Linked DNA regions of Homo sapiens: region 1 is linked to region 2. The links come from fine-mapping of genetic effects on gene expression. A gene starts in region 2. The other region holds a variant in brackets. All regions are shown on one strand. Distances are between the middles of the regions.

Region 1 (8,507 bases), 95 kb before region 2:
ACAGGCGTAAGCCACCGCGCCTGGCCTATTTTATTTTATTTTTTTTCAAGACAGAGTTTCGCTCTTCTTGCCCAGGCTGGAGTGCAGTGGCGCGATCTCAGCTCACGGCAACCTCCGCCTTCTAGGTGCAAGCAATTCTGCCTCAGCCTCCCGAGTAGCTGGGATTACAGGCATGCACCACCACGCCCAGCTACTTTTTTGTATTTTTAGTAGAGATGGGATTTCACCATGTTGGCCAGGCTGGTCTTGAACTCCTGACCTCAGGTGATCCACCCACCTCGGCCTCCCAAAGTGCTGGGATTACAGGTGTGAGCCACCTCGCCTGGCCTGCTGTCCCATTTTACAGATGAGGAAACTGAGGCTCTGAGAGGGCCGAGGCAGCTCCCAGTCATGCAGACAGAAGTGGCTGAGCTGAGACCTAAACCCCAGTGCCCTGTCATGTCACCCCTTCCAGTGTCCTTTCCCCACTGCTCTGCCTCAAGTTGTGGCAAGCTCGCCCAGTGTCCTGAAGCTAAAGCCCTTACTGCCGTGCATTTACGAGCTCTCTTCTGATCAGGCAATATGACACAGGACTCAGAATACCAAAGGCATGGAGCAAAAAGGAAGCCTCGTGTGCCTGTCCCCCAAGATCCAGACCCCAGCCCCAACAGCCAACCCCGTCTCAATCCTCACACCTCTTTCTAGAGACAGCCCATATATCTCTGTATTTCAAAGTGCTTTGACCTGGGTTTGACCAACAACTGGGTGTGCCCCGCCCTTAGCCGTTTCTTTGATTGCCGCCCCACCCCCAGCCAGGTGTACAAGGTGCACCCAGGGCCAGGCCCCTGCAGGAGCCCAGCTTTCCCATCAGGGGCCACTGGTGTCCTGGGTGCCCAACTCCCTTCCCCACTCACCAGCCCTCGCTGCACACACACTGTCCGCACACGAAGTCTCCGTTGAAGCTGCAGCGAGCTGACCGCACCTCTTTTTGCTGGAATGAGAGAGACCATGGTGGGGTGCGTCGGGGGAGCAGGACCGGGGCCACTGGACACTTCCGCTCTCCTGTGTGCCTCGGGAAACCCCACAAGGGATATGGGGCACAGGAGTCCTGCTTCATTCCTCAGGGTCCCTGGGTGCTTGGCTCAGCTCTCCCCTCCCGCCCTGCGGGGCTGCGTTGTACCAGCTCGCAGGTGCACACATCACAGATGATGCCCGCGTCCATCTTGAGGCCGTCGGAGAAGGAAGGTTTCAGATGGATGTTGCCCTTCTGGTCCTCCGGCAGCTGGCACACGTGCGTCCCATCCACGTGCTCAAGGGCCCGCAGCTGCACCTGGTATATACCCTGCAGGGGCCCCGTGGTCAGCCAAGGCAGGCCCAGCCCCAAGGACCAGGGGGCCATCGATGCCTGAAGGCCCTCGGCCCCCAAGTTCCTAGGAGATGTCTGGATCCCTGAAATGAGCTCCTGCTCACCTCCCTCAGGGCTGGAAACTCCCTCCTTCCCAGCGCAGTCACAATCATAGCGACAATGACAGTGGCCAGGGCCTCTGGGCTTCGTGACACTAACCCATTTACTGCCCCAGCAAGCCTCCGGGCTCGACGCTTGCATGCCGAGGAAACCAACAAGCAGAGGAGCAACCTAGGCTCATCCGAGCGGCTAGGCCCAGGGATCTGCACCCAGGCCTGCCTGACTCCAGGGGCCACGCTCTTGACCGCTGTTTTAAACGATTCCACTCGGTGTGGGGCGCTGTGCCTATCCCCCACCCCGCTGCCCCCACAGAGGCGTACCACTTCCCCCCGCCGGATGTGAAAGGACCCAGTCCTCGTCTTCTGGAACATCTTGGAGGTGACCTCTGTCCGAAGGCCTCGGGGGCTGTCTAGGGCCCGGATGTCCAGGTTGGAGCGGATCCGCTAAAGGAGGAAGGAGGTTGATCAGTGCTCTGTGGGGGGCCTCTGTGCTCCACCCCAACCTCCAAGTGTGGCTGGCATCATGCGGGGTATCACAGAGCCTGCAGGAGCCAGGGCCAGGCCCAGGTGGCCCCTCGGGGCCTCAGGGATAGCTAGAGACCCTTCCTCACTGGTCTGTCCCAGACCCATTTCTCCACCGTGATCCAAGACACCTCTTGCCCACCCTGCCCACTTCCTGCCCTGCCCCAGAAGGGCTCAGACTCTGGAGCCTGAGCTGCCCTCACATTGAAGGCCTCCTCCAGCAGCTCCACGATGTTGGACGAGTCCTCCTGCAGCACCCCCAGTGAGGAGACAGGGAAATAGGTGTGAAGCTTCTGCGGGAGAGAAGGCCAGGTCTCAGGCTAAGCATCTCCATGAATCTGAACAGCTCTAGGATTCTTCCCACTTTGAGGATGGGGAAACTGAGGCCTGGAACCTACTGTGGTGTCGCAGAGCCTGCCCTCTTAGCCCCCACCTGCTTGGGAGTTGGGGTGGAAGATGGGCACATGACCTCCCCTTCCCACTAGGGCCCACATTTTGGGGGGTCTAAAGGCTTTGGGAAGGGAGGAAGGAAAGGGAGGAAAAGAGGGAGGGAGGAAGGGAGGAAGGGAGGGAGGGAGGGAGGGAGGGAGGGAGAGGTGTCTGAGAAGCTCCATGGACCCCCTACCTTGACCACCTCCCACCCGTGGGACCTGGGCCCCGCACCTCGTAGTAGCTATAGGAGTAGTTGGTGACAGCAAAGATGGGGATGATGTTGTGCTTGGCGAGCAGGCGCACCAGGGTGGGCACCGACGGGTAGTCCTGTGTCCTGTACTGGGTGTAGGTGCCCGTGGTGTCCAGGTGGCACCGTTCATCGTTGCGGCTCATGATGCCAGCCAGCACGTTGGCGCCATCAGCCTCATAGTGGAAGGCTGACTCGGTGGAGAAGACCAGCAGGTGGGTGCTGTCCGGGCGCCAGCCAATGTCCCTCTGGGGAAGGCAAGGCGGGGCGTGCCCACTGAGCAGGCTGCCTGCTGACACGCATCACGGCGTCGTGTAGGACGGGGAACGCGGGTCCCAACATGGGGCTGGGCTTAAGCCACTGGATTCACAGCAAGTGCCCTCATGAAAGATGCATCTGACGGCACATGACTGAGTGACAACGCTGAGAAACAGGAGCTGGAGATGCGGCCCCCGCAAGGCGCTGGGGCCACAGGCGTGCATCACACCCAGCTAATTTTTGTGTTTTCTGTAGAGACAGGGTCTTGCCATGTTTCCCAGGCTGGTCTCAAATCCTGAATTCAAGCAATCCCCCCGCCTCGGCCTCCCAAAGTGCTGGGATTACAGGTGTGAGCCACCACGCCTTGGCTAGCTCTTTGTTTTCTAACCTAGTAATATGGGTATGTCATTTTCAGAATGAACAAATGGATGTACATATCAAAGGAAATGGCTTATTTGGATGCCCAGAACAGGTGGAGTCTGGGCAGCTGGTGGGTTCAGGGTACTAAAGATTCCAGAACGCTAAAGCCCAGGTCTGCCTTGGTAGCTGATACGAAACCAGGCTGTGACTGCTCAGGCCAGGGGACCGTGGCTCCAGGCACATCTGAACTCAGATTGTAACTGAGACCTACTCACAGAGTCTGAGCTTGTCTCAGGGTGAAGGGGTTGCAGGCTCCCAGGCTTTCCCTCAGGGCCTGTGAGCCTGGCACCAGAGCAGGCCAGGGGGCAGCTCAGGCCCTTGCCCAGAAGTGCTCACCCCTGGCCTAGGCTGGCAGCACCCTTCCCAGTGCCCACCGTGCACACAGCTGTCTGCAGGATGGCATCGAAGCCGCCCTCAGGAGCATCCAGGTTGCCTGAGATCCGCTCTCCCTGCAGTTTATTCCGGAACTCATCCACATCTTCTGTCAGGCTGATGACGTTCTTGAAGGAGAAGGGGGGGTCACTGTTGGGCCAGGGCTCCTTCAGCCTGGGCAGAGGTGGGAGGGAGAGAGAGTGTCACAGGGGGAAGACGCCGCAGACCCCAGTGCCCCTGGCTCGTTTCAACTAGAAGGAGAATTTTTTTTTTTTTTTTTGAGACCAAGTCTCGCTTTATCACCCAGGCTGGTGTGCGGTATGCACGATCTTGGCTCACTGCAACCTCTGCCTCCTGGGTTCAAGTGATTCTCCTGCCTCAGCCTCCCAAGTAGCTGGAATTACAGGCGCCCACCACCACACCTGGCTAATTTTTTTTTTTTTTTTTTTTTTGTTGAGACAGAGTCTCATTCTGTCGCCCAGGCTGGAGTGCAGTGGCGCAATCCTGGCTCATTGCAAGCTCCGCCTCCCGGGTTCACGCCATTCTCCTGCCTCAGCCTCCCGAGTAGCTGGGACTAC[C/T]GGTGCCCACCATCACGCCTGGCTAATCTTTTGTATTTTTAGTAGAGACGGGGTTTCACCGTGTTAGCCAGGATGGTCTCGATCTCCTGACCTCGTGATCCACCCGCCTTGGCCTCCCAAAGTGCTAGGATTACAGGCGTGAACCACCGCGCCCAGCCAATTTTTGTATTTTTTAGTAGAGATGGGGTTTTGCCATGTTGCCCAGGCTGGTCTTGAACTTCTGACCTCAGGTGATCTGCCCGCCCTGGTCTCCCAAAGTGCTGGGATTACAGGCATGAGCCACCGTGCCCAGCCGTAGAAGGATAATTTTAAGTTGTGGGTGAAAGAGGAGTGGGGGTCACATGGCCTGGACCCTTGCCCACCTGCGGGACCCACACAGTCACTTACTTCTCAGGCCTCATGTCCGTCTGCGGGACGCTGACTTTGTCCACAAACTTGCCAAATCCAATAGTGTAGTCGCTGGTGAGCTGGCTCAGGACCCGAGCTGGATGTCAAAAGGACAGAGAGGGGATAGCTGAGCCCTGATGCCTGGCATAAACACGGGCCCCCCACCAAGGGCTGGCTCAGAAGGGAGGAAGAGGGAGGTTAACGCTTTGCATGCTGGACAAAGGTTCATGCTCACAACATTGTCTGTTCCTATTTATGGATGAGGGAAATGGGACTGGGGGTCTGGAGTTATGCGTACAGCAAGGGCAGGGTGGCTGGGAATGCAGCCCAGCTCTGAGGAGCAGAAGCTTCCCCACAGCCTCGTGGCAGGGGGTGCCCTCCTTGTCAGGGCCAGATGGCTCCACTGCCCGCCTGCCCTGGGCCTTCTCAGAAGTCCCCAGTGGTGAGTAGGGTCTGACCGAGATTCTTCCCTTGAGAATGGAAGGGAAGGTTTTTGGGGGCTCAAATGTCCAGTGTTTCCTTCTGGGTGGGTGCAGCTGTCCTGAGTCCTGGCCTCCCAAGCAGACGCCCACCTGTCCCCCTCCTGCCCTGCTGTCCTCCACTCTGGCCCTGCCGTACCCAGGTTCTGCCCCATCTTCTTGAGGTTGTCCAGATCATCGGACATGGAGTTGGAGAAGTCCATGAGGATGTACAGGTCCACGGGGCTCTCCAGTGGCTCAAACACCTCCAGCTCAAAATGCCGCTCCTCACCGGGCCGCAGACGGACCCGCAGGCCTTGGGGGGACATCTGGCTGCGCCGCAGGGTGGTGTCAATCTGGGTCTCCTGCAGCCAGTGGAAGGGGACAGCTGGCTAGAGGGTCACTCCGGAGGCCCGATGGGGGCCCAGCCCGGCCAAGGGGCACTATACACCCCCATAAATAGCCAGGCTGAGCATGGGGAGCCCCCACCCCAGTCCCCACACCAGGCACCTCTGTGATTTGGAAGCTGCTCTCCATGACCACGATGCTCTCCCGCTGGCAGCCCGCGGCCAGCAGCTCCGCCTGGGTGTTGCAGCGCCGGTCCCTGAACATCTGGCCAGAAGGACAGGGGGTCACTGGGGGCAGCACCCATTCCCTGGCTGCCCCAACCCTAGATTCATTTCCACCAGCTATTCCCGACCCTTGCCTGTTCCACACCAACCCGGGCCAGGTCCTCACCTCGTCTGTGCAGTAGGCGCAGTCCTTATCCACACGGACACACTCCGTGCAGCTCTTCACTGGGGCCTTCTTGCAGCGGTTTGCTGGGGGGACAGATGTGGGCACATGAATGGGGAGGCGCTCAGCAAAGGCAAGCACTTTCCCACCTGCACCTTCACCTGGAGAGATGGGGATTCCCTCCTTATGTTATTTATTTATTTATTTTGAGACAGAGTCTCGCTCTGTTGCCCAGGCTGGAGTGCAGTGGCGTGATCCTGGCTCACTGCAAGCTCCACCACCCGTGTTCACGCCATTCTCCCACCTCAGCCTCTGGAGTAGCTGAGACTACAGGCGCCCGCCACCACGCCCGGCTAATTTTTTGTATTTTTAGTAGAGACAGGGTTTCACCGTGTTAGCCAGGATGGTCTCGATCTCCTGACCTTGTGATCCACCCGCCTTGGCCTTCCAAAGTGCTGGGATTACAGGTGGGAGCCACCGGGCCCGGCCTTATGTATTTATTTTGGTTTGTTGTTGTTGTTGTATTTTTATTTTGTTTTACTTTATTTTTCAGACGAGTCTTGCTCTGTTGCCCAGGCTGGAGTGCAGTGGTGCGATCTCAGCTCACTTCAACCTCCGCCTCCCAGGTTCAAGTGATTCTCCTGCCTCAGCCTCCCGAGTAGCTGGGATAATGGGTGGGCACCACCATGCCTGGCTAATTTTTGTATTTTTAGTAGAGATGGGGTTCCACCATGTTGGCTAGGCTGGTCTCGAACTCCTGACCTCAAATCATCTGCCCGCCTCAGCCTCCCAAAGTGCTGGGATTACAGGCGTGAGCTACTGTGCCCAACCTGCATTTCAATTTTATTTAGTTTTGAGATACGGTCTTGCTGTGTCGCCCAGGCTGGAGTGCAGTGGCATGATCACAGCTCACTGCAGTCTCGACATCCTGGGCTCAGGCAATCCTCCCACCTCAGCCTCCCAAGTAGCCCAGCTAATTTTTTATTTTATGTAGAGACAGGGGCTCCCTATGTTGCTCAGGATGGTCTCATATTCCTGGGTTCAGGAGATCCTCCCACCTTGGCCTCCCAAAGTGCTGGGAATTATAGGCGTGAGCCACTGCACCCAGCCGTTCCCTATTTTACAGAGGCCAGGGGTATGTGATCTGCCCCAGGTAGCACAGCTAGAAACAAGCTGTGATTTCAAACCTGGGACTTCCCACTCAAGCCAGAAGGACAGAAGGTGGGGACTGAGACAGTGGCACTGGCACACTCGGTGCTGGCACACCCTGGCCACCCCCTGGCCTGCTGCCTCCTCAGGTCCAGCCAGACGGTCCTCAGCCTTCCCCATTACCTTTGATGAGCTGCACCTAGCACCCTTTTCAGGTACCTCCTCCATCACAGCTTGTGCCTCACGGCGAGACCACTGCCACATGGCCTGTCTGTCCTCTGAGCCCCTTCTAGGGTGAAGGGAATGGTGTCTTGTTTATCACGGTAGCCCTAGCACCCGGCACACCTGGCACACAGTGGGTCCTCAGTAACGAATGAAGTAAAACTCTAGATTTCCCTTTGGCTCTGCTCAGTTAAAAATCACAGTGAGGACCTACTGTGTGCACCTGGTGTACACAGTAAGAGGTCTCCTGGGCTTCAGGCAATGGTGTGCTGGTCAGTGTTTAACAATGGCTGTGGTGGCCAGTGCGATGGCTCACACCTGTAATCCCAGCACTTTGGGAAGCCGAGGTAGGAAGATTGCTTAAGCTCAGGAGTTTGAGACCAGCCTGGGTAACATAGTGAGACTGTCTCTACAAAAAAATTGTTTTTAATTAGCCAGGCATGGTGGTGCATGCCTGTGGTCCTAGCTACATGGGAGGCTAAGGTGGGAGGATTGCTTGAGCCTGGGAAGTTGAGGCTGCAGTGAGCCACGATGGCATCACTGCATTTCACCGGGACGACAGAGTGAGAGCATGTTTCTACATATACATTGAATTAAATAAAAAAATAACAACGGCTCTGGTCTCTGGTGCTTGACGTGTAGCGTTTGCCAATTTCTGTGGTGTAAACATTTCTGTCGTGGTCTATTTCAAGCCACCAGCAGGACCCCCTCTAACAGACAAAATTCAAGTGGTAGGAGCTGGCTCCAGTGATTTGTCCACTAGTGACACTCAGAGAGCAAGTGACACGTCAGCAGTGCCTCTCTTCTCCAAATTCCTATAACCCTCTTGACTACACCTCTGGGGCCTCAGTGCATCCTCTGGGTGCCTCAGTCCTGGGTGGGTGTCTCCTCTTTCCTCTAGACACAGCCTCCTTCGCTCCTATTCTCAGGCCCCGTGGTCAGGGCTCAAGCTTCTCTAGGCTGAAGAGCTTGGAGCCTCAAGTTTTCCAGCCCTGAAGGTGGGCAGTGGTCAGTTGCTGAATGGCCAAGCGTGTTTAGGTGAGACACCGTGAGATCCCCGTGCAAGGGCAATGCCTGCCCAAGGGATGATCCTGCCAGGAGGGGGCTGCAGGGCAACGTGGACTCACCCAAGGTCCCAGAGAGGCTGACGCTGATCAAGGCTGCCAGGAGCAGCCTGGCCCATGGGCTGGGGCGTGGCCCTGCCATCCTCTTCCTCCTGCAGAACAGCAACAATTGACACATGAGGCCTCCACAGCCATGGTCGGTGCCGTCAGCTTCCTCTCG
Region 2 (8,000 bases):
AACAGGATTTCACCATGTTAGCCAGACTGGTCTCGAACTCCTGACATCAGGTGATCCGCCCTCGGCCTCCCAAAGTGTTGGGATTACAGGTGTGAGCCACTGCGCCCGGCCTGGGGAGCTGTTTTTTTAAGTGATGATGAGGGTAGCAGGCAGAAGATGGCTCCGTGGAAAATTAGATGAGTTCTTGTCAAAAGCCGTGGGTTCCCTGAGTTAGATCCACCCAGCTTCTCACACCTCACCTGGAGTGAGTGCGTTTCTGTGGAGGTGAGGATCTCAGTTTTCAAATGTACTGAGAGGCATAGGGTCCTAGAATGCTATAGATCATCCGCTCCCGCCTCCTTCCTTCTATACGTGGGGAAGCTGAGACCCGAGAGAGCAAGCAACTTCTCTGAGGTTACACAGCAGGACAGGGCCCCAGCCAGCACCCCCACTGGTGCCCCACGCTGTCTCTCCATGGAGGCCTGTCTCCAGCTTAGACCAGCAAGATAGCCAGGAGCAGCCCCGCTGAGGGTACTGCCCGTGCAGTGGGCTCAGTACAGGAGCCAGGGCCCGAGAGCCCCCTGGAAGCCAGCTGGCTGTGCTCGGCCAGCCCCAGCCCACATTTGTGGATCTGAAGCTGCTTTTATCAGCATATCACCACCAGGCCGGGGCCACACCAGGCTCTTTGAGACTACCTGGAGTCCTTGTCACCACAGGTACAGGTCTTGTGAGTCTAGCCAGCCTGAGTGTAGGACTGAACCCTCTGGTCAGACTGAATGGGACATTCTCTCTGGCCAGGTGGAGCAGGCTTGCACAAGGACAGTGGTCCCCTCTTGGTTCCGGGACCTCCGTGCCATCCTCACGCCCCAGCTTTCCAGGTTCCCTCATTCTTAGAGGGACGACAATGCCGACAGTGTCCCTTACGGGACAGTTTGCGCGTGGTTCAGGAGCTGGGCTGCCTTTCTCCCCTCCCTCTCTGTCTACACTTGGTCTGGCGTTTTCAGCCTGACTGGCACTGTGCCCACACGGCCTAATGTAGCCCAGCAGAGACACTCCTTCAAAGAGGGAGCGGGCAGGGAGAGCTTTTTCGCTTGTGCCACACCCAGAGACCCAGGGAGAGATTGCAGGGGGCACTTTTCCTTGTGAGCGAGAGACCTGGGGCTGTGCTCACCAGAACAGGGAGGAGGAAGGTTGGACTGAGGCTGAATTTACTGGTGCAGGAAAAGTGGGGTTTGTTGCTGAGAAGCTCTGGCCAGCCTCCTCCAGGGGCTGCAAAGTGGGAGAGCTGCAGACTCATGCCGGGTGGACCCCGGCCTCCAGCGGGGAAAAGTGTCAGTTCCCAGCAGCAGCAGGCTGCGGCTGTGGACAGTGTCATAGCTTTGCGCCCAGGGCTTCCCTAGGGGGCTGACTGGAAGCTGAATTTGCCAGCCAGGCATGGCCAGCCTCACCCAGCCCCAGGGTCTGACCCAGGGGTACTCACGGTATCCTGTCACACAGTGAGCAGAAGTAGGACCGTTGGACGTGGCTGTTCTGCCCCCAGAGAGCTGGAGAGGAACCCCGGGACCCCCTTTGTTTTGCAGTTGATATCTTGTCATTTGGAGCGTAAACCCGCGACTGAACCTTCATGGCGCAGGTGGGGGAGCTGAGGGGTCCTGTTCTCTAAAGAGGAGGAGGCGCATTCCAGCCGGTCCCCAGGTGGTCTTCCCAGCGGGCTATTTAAAGCCAGGCCAAGGAGTGCCTGACACTTGGTGCCCAATATAACCAGCAGCCGTCAGGTGACTGTGTGGCATGTGCCCCAGCCGCTGCTCCTAAGGGAACCTTAGTGTTCCCAGCTGTGGCGAGGGGAACATGGGAGCTCTGAGGCTGGCCACCTCTCCTCCCCTTTCCCTTCCTAGGTTTGGCAGGAGGAAGGCAGGGAAGCCCAGGAGGGCTACTGATGATCCCATATTTTTCCCGTCTTTCTATCTCAGGTTCACCCAACTCCTTCCAAAACCACACTTCCCACCTGCGAACCAGGGCAACCAGTCCCTCCCAACCCCACGCTTGGTAGTGCCCACCTGCGAACCAGGGCAACCAGAGTCCCTCCCAACCCCACGCTCAGTAGTGCCTTGGTTGGAGGCTTCTCAGGGTCCTCAGGGGTTCCTGAGTGGCTGCCAGAGCAAGTGGTGGCTCCCTCTGGCCTTAAGAGGGAGTGTAGCCCAGCTGCCACCAGGCCCTCCTGCTGCCCAGGCTGCCCAGCCAGCCCTGCTTGGAGCCTTCAGAGGGTGTGCCCTGGCTGCAGTAGCGGTCAGCACAGGGGAAACACTCAGGGCAGAGAAGGCTGGCAGAGCCGGAGGGATGGGAAGCATTCCTTTATGTGGCATCTCCTGGCACACGGAGCCTTGCAACAGGCAGGCATCCCGCAGGCCAGACAGCTGCCACTTGGTCCCGAAGCTTCCCTGTTTCCTCCTCGCAGAGCTGATACTCCAACCCCAGGCGCCTCACGAGGAAGGGCTGGCAGCAGGCGGCGTGTTTGAGACTGATAAGCGAGGTGTGTTGGCAGCGCGGGGCCCCAGAGGGCTGCTTGCTCTGCCCTGTTGTTTCGTCATGGTGGGTTTTAGTCACCCTTGCCCTGTTGGGCATTATCTCGTTTGAGGTCCACCTAGAAGGAGGCATAACTGACACTTGTGGGAGATTTGCAGGGTCCTGTGCCTGAGCAGCCGGGGGGGATGCCCCTATTTGTGGCACTGAGCCTTTGGGTGACTCCCCTTTTTGCCCTGGCTCCAACTGGAAGTAGAAAGTGGTGCTTGAACCCCTGGCAGGCCCTGCTCCTGTAGCCACCCAGGGCGGGAGGAAGCGCTTTCTGCTGCTGGTGTTAGAAACAGTAGGCGCTCTTTCTGCAGCTACAGAAGCTGGCTGTTCATTCACCCTCCGTCCTGGTTCAGGGACTGTGTTGGAGAGACCCTGTCCACTCGTGTCCTGTGGATGCAGGACAGGGATCCCCACCTGCCTGCCTGGGGCGTCTTGTGAGTGACAGCCACTGGGGTCTCCAGGCTCACCGCTGTGCCCCGACCCCGACCTGGCCTGACTCTTCCCTACTGTGCGCCTCCCAACACCGCAGGAGCTTGTCTCCCCAGACACCAGCCCCAGCCGAAGCCCCCAGCCTCTGCTGAGCTGAGAACACTTGGGCTAGTCCTTGGTTTCCACATTTCCCTGGGTCATTGTTTTTGTTTCTCACTAGATGCCAGCTTGTTTGCTTTGAGGAAAACATATGGGGGGTGGTGGCTTTAACGCTGGCTTGAGGACAGGGCGGCAGGAGGAGTAGGCAGCCTCGGCTCACGGGCCCTGCCCAGGAGGGCTGCTCTCAGTGTTCCCCAAAGAACCAAACAGCCGGGTCCTGCTTCCTTAGGGGTGGTGTCATGTCAGCCTGTGCATCACGGTGGCACAGCAGAGGTCCCGGTTGCCAGCGTGGTCCCTCCCAGCCTCACTTCTGTGACCTTCTGCCCACCTGAGCCTGAGTTGAAAGTCAGTCCTCCAGGTTCCTGGTTTGGTGTTCAAGGCTCATCACCAGAGGGAGATCTAGGAGTTTATGGGGTTCTAGATGGGCCCAGGGAGGAGGACCCAGGCTGAGCCGTGAGCTGAGAACACCAGCAGTGAGTGGGCCAAGCCCCTGAAAGGACACAGATGGGCAGAGTCCTGCTGCATCCTGGGGGCGCCGCATGCTGGCTGGGCAGACCCTGCGCTGACCTCGACAGGGCTCTGCCCTAATCCTGGGAAAAAGGGAGGCTCAGCAGGCCGGCAGCCATTCTCTCCCAAGCTGGACAGCCAAATCCCTCTTTTAAGCCCCCTGAATAAAAGAGCTGAAATGAACTTGCAGAATAAGCAGGCCCTCGGGGCCCCTCTGCTGCACAGCAGGCGGAGCAGGAGGCGCTCTGAGCAGAGCCCCCAGCCCTCCCCTAGTGCAGGGTCCCAGCAGCAGGGAGAGTGCAGGTGTGTGCAGGAGGCTGGCTGACTTCCCTGCAGGGAAGCGACCCAGCATGTCCCCGAAGACCTCTCCGTGTTTATGGTAGACTGTGGCCCTTCACCCTGGGGGCAGGGGACCCTTGCTGCTCCCTCCCTGTCCCCCCTTCTTCTGTGGCCATTGCCACTCACCTGGGAGCTCAGGTGTTGGGGGCTGAGCAGCAGTGCCCCAGCGCGGAGCCTCCACGTGCTGTCCTCGTACTTCCTTCGTGGGCGCCGCTGCTCCCCTGGGCGCCTCAGCCCAGCTCCTCTGCTGACAGCCAGCTGCTGTCTCTGCCTGGCTTTTTTGTTGTTGGTCGTCCTGGAGATCCAAGTGTCAAATTACCGTCGCGAGGGGGAGCCCGAGGAAGCCCTGCTTGGGAACTTGTCCTCCAACTTCATGTCCCGGTGCCTCACCTCTGCCCTGAGAGCGCTGCTCAGGGACAAGACAAGCTCCCTCTCTCCTCCTCCTTCCTCCTCCTCTCCCTCTCCCCGACTCCCACGCCGTGGGCTGGGCCTGGGTTGGGAGCTGAAGAAAGAAGTCGGCTCTCTGCCTTCCTGGCCAGGAGGACCCTGGGGAGGCTCCACCTGAGCCTGTGGAGGGGAGTCCTGCAGCGCTCTCAGGTCTGGGGCACCCACCCTGCCCTCAGGAAGGCCACCCCTTCTGTCCCTCTGGCCACTCCCTGGCTGGTCCCTCCCTCTGGCCTCTCTCAGGAACAACAGTAAACAGTGGGGAGCTGGTGGCCCTCTCAAGCTGAGCAGGAGGCTTTGCAACCAGTCCCTGGGGAGGCCCTTGTGCCGCTCAGCATCTGAAGGCGTCTTGGGGGAGAACTTGGAATCCTGAGTGACCTGGGAGTGGCCTGCGCGCCCGGCAAGGCGCCTCATGTTCCTTGTGAGGTGAGGGCCTTCTGCTGGGGCTGTGACCGCACTCCTGGCCCAGCTGTCAGGGCAGGGCTCCAGAGTCCAGGGGCCGGGCCCTGTGACATTTGCCTGGTTGTGCCTCCCAGCAGGCTAGGCTGTGTGGAGAGAAACCGACCCCAGCCCCGCTGTCAATGGAGCTCTTTGAGTCCGAGCACAAAACCCCAGTGAGTCAGGGCCTGAGGAGGGCAGGGGGAGGAAGCCAGCCATGTGGTCACACCACTCGGATGCCAGAGCCTCCCAGAGGCTGGACAGGCGGCCGCTGTGCGGGCGCACGGACTCCTGGGGATGAACCATTTGTTGCATTTACTCATTGGAGCAGAGTGGGGGCAGGAGCGCCCTCTGGTGGCCGCCTCGGCTGTCCCAGCCCAGGTCAGGCTTCAGAGCTGCATTCACTCAGCTAAAAGAAAGTCAGCCAGGCCCTGCTTCCTTACCGGGGTGTTGCAATCAGCCTTGCATCCTTGAGCCTGCGCCTTGGGGTCGCAGCCCCTCAAAGGGCTTCTTGCAGCCGCAGCAGTGCTCACACTGGGAGGAGTTCTAGTTAGAGCAGTTAATGCCAGCTATTCTTGTCCCTGGGATGTGGCACCCCAGACAGCCCTGCCTGTGTTCCAGCATCTCCTCTTGGGCTTCCCTACCCTGTGCCACGTTCCTGGTGGCAGGAATGGCTGTTTATAAGGAGCCTGAGAGAGCTATGGCCCCTCTTGCGGCCTCTGCAGCTGCCCCAAGGGTCGACAGCCACCCCCATGCAGAGGGAACAGAGATGCGACAGAGCCTCGTGGGCCAGCCAGAGGCTGCTCCCTGCTCCCAGCATGGGCAGAGGCCGCTCACCCCAGGAGGGCTGCAGCAGGGTTGAGACAGAGGAAGACGAGAGGAGGACTCCAGGCGAGGCTGCGTCTCCCTGGCTAAAGGCCCCACCTGTGACACCCTCACGGGTTGATGATGGGACATATTACTACACAGCCGTGCCTGCCTTAGCAATGCAAATACGTTTTGAGAAATTTAACTTGTCATTGTGCGGTCACAGAGTATACTTAGGGAAATCAAACAGCAATTCCAGGGAAGAGAAGGAAAAAAATATCAAGCGGCACAGCCTCCTACACACCCAGGCCATGCGCTACAGCTTGTTGCTCCTAGACCACAAACCTGTACATCACGTTACTGTCCTGAGTACCGTATGCAGTTGTAACACAGTGGTATTCACATATCTAAGCACACATAAGCATAGAAAAAGTACAGTAGAAATACAGTGTTAGAATCGTAGGGGACCACCATTGGCTGTGCAGTCATTCCATGGGGCATGACTGTACTGTAATGCACTTCAGACATCACCTCAGCCATCTTCGCTCAGTCCGTGAGGGCTGTGCCTTTCTGCACCATCTTACTGACGGGAATGCATGGGCTTTAGGAGGTGAAGTGTGTCACCCAAAAGACACCCTTCATGGCAGAGCCAGCATCTACATCCCATTGCCAGAGGACAGAGGGGAGGAGCAGAGGAGTAACTGGACAGAGTGGGGTTCACATCCTGCTTCCCGGGAGACCCCCATGTGTTACGTGACCTTGGGAAAGTTGGTTCACCTTATCGTCCTCATCTGTGTAGTGGGGAGAGCCAAACGATGCCTGGTGCAGCTTGGATGAGATGAGGGGTGTGGGGCTCCCGGCATGGTGCCGGACGCGGCAGTGCTCGCTCAGCTAGCGATTCAGGCTCGGGTGAACAGACGCTGGCCGACTGGGCTCTCCGCCCCTCACCTCTGCGGTGCTGCCTGCTCCAGGTGCCGCCATGCCGCCATTGCCAAGTACTTCGGGGATGCGCTGCCTGCCTGCGCCAAAGGCTGCGACCACTGCCAGAACCCCACGGCCGTGCGGAGGCGGCTGGAGGCCTTGGAGCGCAGCAGCAGCTGGAGCAAGACCTGCATCGGGCCCTCCCAGGGGAACGGCTTTGACCCCGAGCTGTATGAGGGAGGCCGCAAGGGCTACGGGGACTTCAGCAGGTAAGGGGCCGAGAAGCCAGGGCTCCAACCCGCTGGAATTGCCTGGCATTCCCTTGGCGCCAGGGCCAGACCAGAGGTGGCACGATGCCGCAATCCCCCCTTGAGCTGGTAGGACATCAGGGACATTGCCGTTCTAGCAGCAGCACACATGGGGAGGGCAGAGCCCAGGCCAGGGCCACTCACGCCTGGCCTGTCCCTAGGTATGACGAAGGTTCTGGAGGCAGCGGGGATGAAGGCAGAGATGAGGCCCACAAGCGGGAGTGGAACCTCTTCTATCAGAAGCAGATGCAGCTGCGCAAGGTGAGGGGAGGCACTCAGTGGCCTGTGTGGGGCCCCTGGTGGCCCCCTGCTCGCACCTCTCAGCCCCTTCTCTGGTGCTGGATGGGACTGTCCTGCGGCAGGGCAGGACGCCTCATGGGTCCTTCATGTTGTCCTCCAGGGCAAAGACCCCAAGATAGAAGAATTTGTACCCCCAGGTCAGTACAGAAATGTTCCTGGAGGCTTGTGGGCTCTTCCCGGGGCATGGAGGGAGGATTCTCATCCGGGCTGTGGGGGACCTCAGAGCGCAGAAGGTGGAGCGAAAGGACCAAGGACCACCCCCCCCCCCCACAGATGAGAACTGTCCCCTGAAAGAGGCTTCTAGCAGGAGGATCCCCAGGCTGACTGTGAAGGTAAGAGACGGGCAGCTCCTCAGCCACCCGCCGGGGCCCTCCCCCAGCCGCGAGGCCATGCGACCAGTCTCACTGTCCTGTGCCAGGCACGGGAGCACTGCCTGCGGCTTCTGGAGGAGGCGCTGAGCAGCAACCGCCAGTCAACACGTACCGCTGATGAGTGAGTTCCACGATCACTGGGCTGAGGAGCACTCCAAGCTCTCGTTCCCTTGGAGACTGCAGGACCCTGTCAACCCTGGCCTGTTTGGGCCACCTCTCCCCAGATTGTACCTCTCCTACTCCAGGGGACTGCCCCTACAACCCCACCAGGGCCAGGCATGGCTACAACTTAGGTGCTACCAGCAGCTGCTGAGGGACAGTAAGCCACAGGGTGCTCAGAGAGCCCTAATCAGAATCCCTGTGCCCAAGGCCTACCCCACCAGGCCTGGAGTCCCGCAAGAGCTCAGCAGGGAGAAGCCCAGGCCCA

Evidence for each region. PIP is the estimated chance that this variant, and not a neighbour inherited with it, causes the effect.
Region 1: its variant is the best candidate, but not a certain one, in a credible set for the expression of SMIM5 in lung (TOPMed, PIP 0.74).

Annotation. Positions count from the first base shown.
Region 1 is chr17:75,724,626-75,733,132 of GRCh38, reverse strand. It overlaps ITGB4 (integrin subunit beta 4), which reads right to left. Exons shown (of 40, transcript NM_000213.5): 2 at 8,351-8,439; 3 at 5,856-5,938; 4 at 5,628-5,729; 5 at 5,278-5,482; 6 at 4,660-4,756; 7 at 3,697-3,868; 8 at 2,629-2,892; 9 at 2,169-2,258; 10 at 1,765-1,887; 11 at 1,160-1,321; 12 at 894-970. The coding sequence starts at 8,429. Among named protein-coding and RNA genes, the nearest start is that of ITGB4, 7.4 kb to the right of the region's middle. RefSeq lists an enhancer at 4,181-4,681. The variant C/T (reference allele first, on the strand shown) is at 4,273.
Region 2 is chr17:75,630,313-75,638,312 of GRCh38, reverse strand. SMIM5 (small integral membrane protein 5) reads right to left here and starts at 4,879. Exons shown (of 3, transcript NM_001162995.3): 1 at 4,111-4,879. It overlaps RECQL5 (RecQ like helicase 5), which reads left to right. Exons shown (of 20, transcript NM_004259.7): 9 at 6,645-6,863; 10 at 7,064-7,163; 11 at 7,303-7,339; 12 at 7,476-7,534; 13 at 7,621-7,694. RefSeq lists enhancers at 4,447-5,126, 5,127-5,807.